Linked DNA regions of Homo sapiens: region 1 is linked to region 2. Evidence: fine-mapped expression QTL. A gene starts in region 2. The other region holds a variant in brackets. All regions are shown on one strand. Distances are from middle to middle.

The links. PIP is the estimated chance that this variant, and not a neighbour inherited with it, causes the effect.
Region 1: its variant is the best candidate, but not a certain one, in a credible set for the expression of SMIM45 in prefrontal cortex (ROSMAP, PIP 0.85).

What each region holds. Positions count from the first base shown.
Region 1 is chr22:42,244,993-42,250,365 of GRCh38, reverse strand. The region is part of intron 1 of TCF20 (transcription factor 20); the gene reads left to right. Among named protein-coding and RNA genes, the nearest start is that of TCF20, 23 kb to the left of the region's middle. The variant G/TG (reference allele first, on the strand shown) is at 2,927.
Region 2 is chr22:41,949,508-41,954,880 of GRCh38, reverse strand. It overlaps SMIM45 (small integral membrane protein 45), which reads right to left and starts at 2,731. Exons shown (of 2, transcript NM_001395940.1): 1 at 2,460-2,731. RefSeq lists a silencer at 3,747-3,806 and an enhancer at 3,275-3,902.

The DNA.
Region 1 (5,373 bases), 300 kb before region 2:
CAGGCGATTTTCCTGCCTCAGCCTTCCAAGTAGCTGGGATTACAGGCGCCCCGCCACCACGCCTGGCTAATTTTTGTATTATTAATTTTTGTAGAGACAGGATTTCACCGTATTGGCCAGGCTGGCCTCGAACTCCTGACCTTGGGTGATCTGCCCGCCTTGGCCTCACAAGTGCTGGGATTACAGATGTGAGCCACCGTGCCTGGCCAGTTTCAACTTTTTTTAAAGAGACCATAGTCTTCTAGCTATGTTGCCCATGCTGGAGTGCAGTGACTATTCACAGGCATGATCATAGTGCACTTCAGCCTCAAACTCCTGGCCTCAAGTGATCCTCCTACCTCAGCCTCCCTAGTAGCCGGGACTGACTACAGGTGCTCCACCACACCTGGCTTCTACGTTTTGATGAACACAGCCAGAGCTTACACATGAAGTCAGTGTTGTGATAATGCACTTCTGTGGAGTTCAGTTTGCAAAAAAAAAATGCATAGAATTAATTAGAACTCTCCAAAAGTCTCTACACAATTTATATCTCCAGTATTAGAAATGATGTGAAGATAAAATATATAGCATAGCAAATTGGCACTATGTGTGAAGGAGCAGAAATAATACACCATTGAATAATTTGGCAGGGGAGATTTCTTGTATTTTTTGCCTGTATTTTCACTTCTGCGATCTTCAAAGCACTTGCTCCAGTTTTATTTGCAAAGTGGTTGTGATCCACAAATTTTGTAAGTATATACTGTCTATTTGAAAGCCTGATTATTGCCTGGCCGTTGCAATTTCTGCTTTTGCAGCACCAGTGATAATTAGCTTTTAAACTTTTATCTTTCGCCATTAAGTAGCCGTGTACACTTATCAGAGCCTTTTTGCGAGGGAAGAGTTTCACAGATCTCTTCAATTGTGCTGTAAAGAATAAAGTAAGAAGAACTGATACTCAGCTTCCCCAACACCAAATCTGCATTAGTCAGGGTTCCCTAGGGAGACAGAACCAATAGGATATGTGTATAGATATGAGGGAATTTATTAGGGGAATTGGCTCATATGATTAATGGTGGCTGAGAAGTCCCATGACAGATCATCTGCAGGCTTGAGACCCTGGGATGCCAGTAGCATACCTCAGTCCAAATCCAAAGGCCTCAGAACCAGGGAAGCTAATGGTGTTATCTCTCGGTCCAAGGTCAAAAAGCCTCAGAATTCAGGGGGCCACTGGTTAAGTCCTGGAGTCCAAAGGCTGGCAAGCCTGGAGTTCTGATGTCCAAGGCAGCAGAAGAAAAGTCTGTTCTAGCTCTCAGCAATTCACCTTCTGTGTACTCCCTGGGCTCCTGGCTGATTGGATGATACCCACCAACATAGAGGGCTCTCCTTGCCTACTCAGACTCGCACACTAATCTCTGAAAACATCCTCACAGACACACACACAACACAGTGCTTTACCAGGTTTCTAGGTGTTCCTGTCAAGTTGATAGCTAAAATTAAGTCCACAAATCTATCCTCGGCAACTTGGTACCCATAGGCATCTCCTTAAACCATACTTAATTTCCAGATAATGACAATAGCAAGGTCATAGTTCCACCTAGCATGGTGTAACTATTGTGTACAACCAAAACTATGCAAATTCCCTGCCCCAAAATTCGGCTTTTGGGATTTCATCATTTGGGATTTTAATCTTTTGGGGTTGTGGTTTTAAACATTAGGGATTTTTAGACTTTAGTCTTTTGGGATTTTAACATTCAGGATTATGGCATTTGGGATTATGATTGGTACTGATTGCAGACAGTTTTTGCTAAATCTAGTGTTTAGATATAGCAGCAAAATAATTTCTATGTATATTTAATCACTGATGTAGTAAATCAGTAGTTAATATTTACAGATCCCTTACCCAGTACCAGGCACAGTGCACGTTTTATATTCATTATTTAATTCTCTCAGAATAACCCAATAAAGTCAGTATTTTATCTGTAAAACGGGGATAAAGAAACAGACTGAAGAGAGATTCATTCATTTGGAAGAGGTTCCTCAGCCACCAAGTGATAGAGCCAGGGCTGGCATGCAACTCTATGTGGCTTCAAAACCTGTTTCTCCCTTTTAGTGTAAAATGTATACTTTGTAAAAATGTACACCATGTGGCTGCTGCTTTCTCCCCACACTGACAGGCTTTCCCTGCCCACCTGAGCCCAGGCAGCGCCCACATGAGTACGTGCTCTCTCCCTCAGCCCTGTTCTCCCTTCACAGCAATTATCTGACAGTCTTGTCTTGTATCTGTTTCCTTCACAAAATGTAAGCACCATGGGATGGAAACTTTGCCTACTCCATCCCTGTCTGCATCCATGTTTCCTAGAGTAGTGCCTGACACACAGTAGGAGCCAACATATTTGTTGTAAAGGCTATGAACCAGAAGGTTGTATCAGTCTACAATATTCACTTTTTAAGTCACTTCTGTAGAACAGACTATTAATTTTTTCTTTCTAGTTAGTGATTTTAAGTGAGGAAATTGAAGAGAGGTGTCTTGAAGAGATGCGGAGGAACCAGTCAAGTAGGAGACAGGTCAAGGCTTGTGGAAGTAGAGATTGGTAGTGGTTTAAATGAGCATGGTGCTGGACCTGCCTGAGCTCTTGTAGCTTCGTGAATAGTAACCTTTCTTCCCCAGTCCCTGGTCTAGTGTCTTCCCAACTACTGCCAGAAAATCTTCTGAAAGGTAGCTCTTGTCGTATCCTTTTCATTTGTGTACTGAGTTAAATTTAGACACCTTGCCTTGGTCTTCAGGGTTCCATGGTAGGACCCTGCCCTGCCTCTCTAACCACATCTCCTGGTTTCCCCAGTTGTATCCTCTGCTGCAGCTCGGTGTCCCCAGAGGTGCCTTTATTTCCAGGTCTGGGTCCGTGTCCTCTTTTCTGTTCTCCATCTTATCTTTTTTTTTTTTTTTTTT[G/TG]AGATGGAGTCTCGCTCTATCACCCAGGCTGGAGTGCAGTGGCACCATCTCGGCTCACTGCAAGCTCCGCCTCCCGGGTTCATGCCATTCTCCTGCCTCAGCCTCCTGAGTAGCTGGGATTACAGGCGCCTGCCACCACGCCAAGCAAATTCTTATATTTTTAGTAGAGATGGGATTTCACCATGTTGACCAGGCTGGTCTCTAACTCCTGACCTCAGGTGATCCACCTGCCTCGGCCTCCCAAAGTGCTGGGATCACAGGTATGAGCCACCGCGTGCAGCCTGTTCTCCATCTTTTGAGATAGTTATATTTCAAGGCCTTTCTCAAATGTTACTTTTCTCCATGAAATCTAACATTCCCTTAACTGGATGTTTCCTTCATGACGTTTGTAATTTTCTGGTGCACCTTTAATCTTTGCTTTTTGCTTTTTATTATACCTTTCTTTTTTCCTTTTTTTTTTTTTTTTAATTTTTTGAGACAGAGTCTTGCTCTGTCCCCCAGGCTGGAGTGCAGTGGCGCAATCTCGGCTCACTGCAACCCCTGCTTCCCAGGTTCAAGCAGTTCTCCTGCATCAGCCTCCCAAGTAGCTGGGATTACAGGCACCCGCCACCACGCCTGGCTAATTTTTGTATTTTTGGTAGAGATGGCGTTTCACCATGTTGGCCAGGCTGGTCTCAAACTCCTGACCTCGTGATCTGCCTGCCTCAGCCTCCCAAAATGCTGGGATTACAGGCGTGAGCCACCGTGCCCAGCCTATTATACCTTTCTAAATGTGTTCTTGCCCTCCTTCCCCAGTCCTCCCTGAGGGCAAGATTATGGTATTGGCACTTGCCGTATCCTCTACGGTGCATTGAACACATGAACAAGCAATCATTTTAGAGGTAGAGAAAAACACGTACGAGAAAAAGGCAAACAATGGTATTTAGTTTTGGTGTAGGGAAGACTTGTCCTTTTCCAAGGATTAGTTTTGGTGGTCAGGAAGCTTTTTGAAGCCAGGAGAAACAATGTAGGTAAAGAATTAAGTATATTGAGGCCAGGCCTGGTGACTCATGCCTGTATCCCAGCACTTTGGGAGGCCGAGGCGGATGGGTCACTTGAGGTGAGGTAAAGAGTTTAAGACCAGCCTGGCCAACATGGCGAAACCCTGTCTCTACCAAAAATACGAAAGTTAGCTGGGCGTGGTGGCATGCGCCTGTAACGCCAGCTACACGGAGGCTGAGGTAAGAGAATCACTTGAACCTGGTAGGTGGAGGTTGCAGTGAGCCAAGATCACACCAGTGCACTCCAGCCTGGGTGACAGAGTGAGACTCCATCTCAGAAAAAAAAGAAAAAAGAAAAAGAATTAAGCAAATTGGGTCTAGTATTTTAGAGTAGAAGAAAAGAAACCAAATGGGGAAACGACTGAGAAGCACCATTTTTCAGAGTTTGGGGATGAGTCCTAGTACTTGTCCTCAGGGTGTTCAACAGTATTGTGTGGGAAACAGACAACTAGATCATTGATAATACGTTGTAAAAATTTGACCATAGAGCTGGCTGTGGTGGCTCATGCCTGTAATTCCATCTATTCAGGGGCTGAGGTGGGAGGATTGCTTGAGGCGAGGAGTTGGAGACCAGTCTGGGCAACGTAGTGAGACCTTCTCTCCAAAAAATACATAAATAAAATTTAAAAATAAAATTGGCCATAGAGAGGGAAAGGCGCTAGAAAACATTGGTTAATTCTACCAAAGCTTAGTAAGAGCTAGTGATCTTAGCAAAATTGAGGTCCTGAGCAGGTGGGCAGAAAGGTTGACATCGCGCTGGAGGAAGCTGTCTTAGGGTGAATACATGAATTGTCTTGACCCCCTTAAAAGGGCATTGCAGAAGGTATCACAATATTTTAGGAAGATGATGGTGAAAGGTTAGTTTTTAGTACTAGGACTCAGTTCTTAAGGGAGAAGTAGGTCAGTGTTCAAAGAAACAATATTTAATTTAGTGTTAGAAACCTCCCAGATAGCATCTTGTTCTTCCACGTTTCATGTTTTTGCAGGGCCGAGATGAGTAGCCATGGGAATGAGACAGGAGTAAAGGAGGCTGGACACAGTAGTTGACGCCTACAATGGGATGCTAGGTGGGAGGATCACTTGAACCCAGGTGTTGGAGACCAGCCTGGGCAGCATAGTGAGACCTCGTCTCTACAAAATTAAAAATAGCCGGGCATAGTGGTGCATGCCTGTAGTCCCAGCTACAAAGAGAAAAAAAGGAGTAAGGGAGATAACTAAAGGGGAAGACTATGTAATGAATTACTTGCTCTTGCATGTCCTAGGTTCTTCTCAGTTACACCTTTTTAGAGATTTTTTTTCTTTTTCTTTTTCTCTTCTGAGACAGGATCCGGCTCTGTTGCCCAGGCTGGAGTGCAGTGGCATGATCACGGCTCACTGCAATCTCCGCCTCCCAGGCTGAAGCAAATC
Region 2 (5,373 bases):
CATCTGCCACCATGCCCAGGTAGTTTTTGTATTTTTTAGTAGAGACGGGGTTTTGCCATGTTGGCCAGGCTGGTCTCAAACTCCTGACCTCAAGTGATCCTAACCTCGGACTCCCAAAGTGCTGGGATTACAGGCATGAGCCACCGTGCTCGGCCCACCCAGACTCTTTAGAATGGCCCAAAGGTGCCCATCTGCTCCCTGCCAACCTCCCCCTCCTCACATGGCACACTATGTGCGGTCACATGGAACTGCCTGTCCGTCACCTACATGCGCCTGCACATTATGCAGTCCTCATCTTTGCATATGCTTTCATTTTGCATATGCATTCTTGTTCACTTGGCAAATTCCTACTCATACTTCAAAAGCCAGATCACTGTCTGGCTGTGGTGGGTCACGCCTGTAATTCCAGCATTTTGGGAGGCCAAGGCAGTGGATCACTTGAGGCCAGGAGTTCAAGACCAGCCTGGCCAACATGGAGAAACCCCGTCTCTTCTAAAAGTACAAAAATTAGCCAGGGGTGGTGGCAGGCACCTGTAATCCCAGCTACTCAACAGGCTGAGGCAGGAAAATCGCTTGAGCCTGGGAGGCGGAGTTTGCAGTGAGCCGAGATGGTGCCACTGCACTCCAGCCTGGGTGACAGAGCAAGACTCCATCTCAAAAAAAAAAAAAAAAAAAAAATTCAAAGTACCCTTAGGACGTGGGTGCTATTCCTATCCCCATTTTACAGATAAGGAAACTGAGGCTCAGAGAATAAGAACAAACTTACTATGTAGCACTTGTTATGTGCCAGGCACTGGTTCTGAATATTTTACATAAATTAACTCATTCAGCAGACACAAAAGCTCTATCACCTGGGTACTTGTTACCATTCTCTATTTTTTTTTTTTTTTGAGACTTGATCAGGAGATCAAGACCATCCTGGCTAACACGGTGAAACCCCGTCTCTATTAAAAATACAAAAAATTAGCCAGGCGTGGTGGCAGGTGCCTGTAGTCCCAGCTACTTGGGAGGCTGAGGCAGGAGAATGGCGTGAACCCCGGAGGCAGAGCTTGCAGTGAGCCGAGACGGCGCCACTGCACTCCAGCCTGGGCAACAGAGCGAGACTCCATCTCAAAAAAAAAAAAAAAAAAAAAAAAAAAACAGATCACAGATCACAGATCATCTCCTCCAGGGACAGGATGATGCAGGGCCTATTGAACCCACCCCCAACCTTCCCTAGTTATAAGAAAGGGGTGACGTGAGGAGCCCACCTCTGCCTGCCCGGCAGGTAGAGCACTGTTTTGACTTCCTCCACAAACTTCACAACAGGCCTATGGGGCAAGTGTCACTATCCACATTTTACAGATGAAGAAACTGAGGCCCAGACAGGCTCACTAACTTGCCTTGGCTTACCCAACTGGAAAGTGGCAGAGCTAGACGCCAAACCCCAGCGATGCCCTGAGGCTTGCGTCCTCCAGGGGAGGGAAAGGCACCTGAGCAGGATGAAATGAGCAGATGCCCACCTTGCTTCTGGGGAGGAAAGCAGGGGGATGGATGGAAAGAACTCCAGGTAGGTCGGAGAGAAGCCCTCACTCTTCTGACCTCCGTCTCCAAACTCCAGCTCCTCTTGTCTCTCTACTCCCAGGTGGGCCTGTGAGGGAAGCTGTGGCCCCAGGGGAGGGAAAGATGCTGTTTCCTGGTCCTGCATCCATCCGGAGCCCCTCTCCTACCCCAAAGGTCCTCACTGGCTGTTCTGAGGCACCGACATTGTATTAAAGTGCCCTATTTGTGAAGGAATAAAATGAAGAGTGCACTGATTATCCAAAGTGACTAGTGCAGCCAGGGCAGGGGAGCGTGTAGGACCCAGCACCTTTTAACCAGCTGCCTTTCTGGGGAGCTGGAGAGAGTGCAGGATTGTCTGGTGCTGCCAGGGTTGGTGAAGGTAGGGAAGGAGCACCTCAGGCAGGGAGGCTGCTCCCTGTGTGACTTAACTGTGTCCAAGGTGACTCATGCCCCCTATCCAGGCCCAGCCAGGCCCCCAGTTTCCTTCCAGCTTAAACATGCGAATGGAGGGCTGGGGCAGAACAGAAGCCATTTCAGCTGCAATGCTGGGGGATGTGGAATAGAGATCAAGGTCCCCCAACCTCTCCAGCCCTGTGCACAAAATCCCAGGCATTCTGAGGCTGACTGAGGACCCCGTGGTCTCTTCCTGATTTCTCAGGGAACTGACCTAGGTGGAAAAGCAACACACTCACTGGCCTCCTGTGTTATCTTGGCCCCTTCTTCACCCTCTCTGGGCCTCACGGTCCCCTGTGCACGGTGACAGGGTGGGGATGGGGTTACCAGATGATCTATATGGAATTTTCCAGCCTCATTTCAGCCAATGTGCTGCCTGAGACAGTGTGAGTTTGCAGAGCCCCTCTCCCTACCTCCCAAGCCATTGGCACCACTCGGTGCCCTCCGTGTGCCCAAAGACCCACCTCACGCCCTGCAGATGCCAGTTCCGGGGGCTCTGTGCTGAGCACACCGCCTCAGCCTGAGCAGCTCAGCATTGGCCCGTGGACTCATTCGCAGCTGCTGTCCCCAGAGACACTGCCATCTGCGGCCGCCCTGGGTGCTGGAGGCAGAGATAGGGCAGAGCCAATGCAACCCACGGGAGACGAGCTTCTCACACCCAGGGGCTCTGAGTGGGCCAGGAGGGGGCAGTCCTGGACTGGCTCAGCACCCTGGTATCTCTCCCTGCCCATCAGAGACCCTTCCCCCTAGCCCCCACTCTCAGGATGGCAGGAGGTGGGACCTGTCTCAGCCAATCAGCAGCCTGGCAGAGCAAGGGCTTTATCTTCCGTTGCCCTGGCAACCAGCCTTCTCTTCTGGATCCCTGGTACTGTGCACGTGGTACAGCAGATGACAGAGCGGCAGGATTGGGGGAGTGCGGGGAGGGGGAATCACCCAGCAGGCTGCAGGACCCCAAGCCTGGTGGGCCTAGAGAGGAGAGGACCGTGGCTGATAACTCTAAGGTTTGATGGTCTGCCATTTGGGGAGCAGGGAGATGCTGGGGTAAATGGCAAGCGGGTGGGGACAGAGAATCAGTGACCAGTAGAGCTCAAGGGGGTCATATGTTATACAAGGAAAAACCAAGACTGAGTCTGAGAGTTCAGACACATTGGCTCAATGTAACATTTCCTATGCACCAGACACTGTTTTCAACGCTTTGATTATATTAACTCAATTAATTCTTATTCATGGTCACACAGCAAGAAAGTAGCAATGCCAGGGTCAGAGCCCTAGCCTGGCTTTCAGGACCCTTGCAAATGGCTCCCCCTCCCCATTCTGCCTCATCTACCCCACAGCACCCCTGGCTGGTGTACAGCCAGCACAGGCATTGAGCACTCCCATCTTCCAGCTGGCCCCAACATCACTTCCTGCAGTCCTCCCAGCTGGATTGGTGTTGAGACCCCATTTTGGGATGAGGCAGAGAGGTGATGCTGCTGGCCTTCTCCTTCTCCCAGAGCCCTCAGCTTCTCAGTGACTGAGCTGGAATTCAAAGCCAAGAGCTGACGTTGGGGGTGGGGTCCACCTTCCCAAGCATGGATCCTCCCCCTCCCCCTATGCCATAGACAAGGTATCTGCCACGTGTTGAGGGCTATTCTCAGGAGGGAGAGAGCAGCCCCCTAGGGCCCACGGGGCGTGGCTGGGAAAAGGCTTCCAGGAACCACCTCCCTAGGGAATCCGTTCCCAGAAACCTGGGGATGGGCAGGGGGAAAGCCTCTGGGTGAGGTGGCTTCAGGACCTAGGTCCCCCACCACAGACACCTCTGCGCCATCTAGGGGCTCTTCAGGTATGACAGGTCCTTTCCAGCATATGTGGGACTGGGGGGTGACTGTGAGTTCACAGAGGGTTTGTTTTTTTTGAGACGGAGTCTCGCTGTGTTCGCCAGGCTGGAGTGCAGTGGCGCAATCTCGGCTCACTGCAACCTCTACCTCCCGGGTTCAAGCGATTCCCCTGCCTCAGCCTTCCGAGGAGCTGGGACTACAGGTGGGCACCACCATGCCCGGCTAATTTTTTGTATTTTAGTAGAGGCGGGTTTACGATATTGGCCAGGATGGTCTCGATCTACTGACCTCATGATCTGCCCACCTCGGCCTCCCAAAGTGCTGGGATTACAGGCGTGAGCCACTGCGCCTGGCCTTTTGCTTTGTTTTTTAAGACAAGGTCTTGCTCTTTCACTCAGGCTGGAGCACAGTGGTGTGATCATGGCTCACTGCAACCTCTGCCTCCTGGGCTCAGGTGATCCTCCCACCTCAGCCTCCCGAGTAGCTTGGACCACAAATGCATGCCACTATGCCCAGCTGATTTTTGTACTTTTTGTAGAGACAAGATTTTGCCATATTGCCCAAGCCGGTCTTGAACTTCTGGCCTCAAGCTATCCTCCTGCCTCAGCCTCCCAAAGTACTGGGATTACAGGCGTGAGCCACCACCTGGCCAAAGTGCTTTTTAACATTTTGGGGTGGGAGAGCAGAGGAGTTGGGGGAAGAATCACAAAGGGGCAGGAGTAAACTTTTTGGGGTGAAGGTATGTTCAGGCTCTTAATGGTGATGGTGGCTTCTTAAGTATATACATATGTCAAACTTATCAAATTGTACCCTTGAAATAAGTGTAGTTGATTATACGTGTCCCTTATGCCTCAATAAATCTGTAAAGTATGTGATCCATGGCCTGTCGGCATTGTTTTAGCCACTGATTCCTTATTCATACAAAAGCTTATGGGAAGCTCAATACATAACAGAGATAAAGTGGAGGTTGCTTCGGTTCAATGGTTGGGTGGGGGTGGGGGTTCTGGACCCCACCCACTCGGAATCCCCCGTCTCTCACAGGACCCCAAGTCATCTCCCCAGGGCTCCACAGAAGCCGATTTGAAAAATGCTGGCCCAGAGGACTCTGATGACCCTGCCAGCTTGGGTGTTCAGGATGTAAGAACCTCCAGGCCTCTATCTGGCCTCCTCCCCATCCCTACCCTTCATCATGTATGGATCTTAAACACAACTACTTTCTGTTCAGCCAATGATCACCGCCCCGGTGAAGTGGAGTGCAGGCTCCCCAGGGACACAGAGCAGCTTCCCCTGGGTTCCTGCTGCTCCTGGCTGCTCCCCGATGGCCTCCCCAACTGCAGTGCCTTGTCTCTTGTTACAAGTGGTAACTCCCTGAAGCAGTTTGGCCCCTCTGGGACCAGGGTCCCCAGGGCAGGCACTCAGCACATGCTGACCCAATGGGTCTCAGCCCGGCCCCTCCTGGAAAGTCCCCACCAGAGTCCAAAGTCTTTTCCCAGCCCACCACTCTCTAAGGGCCTCAGTCTCTGGGAGCTCAATCACCTCCGTGGCCTCACCTCCTCCCCTG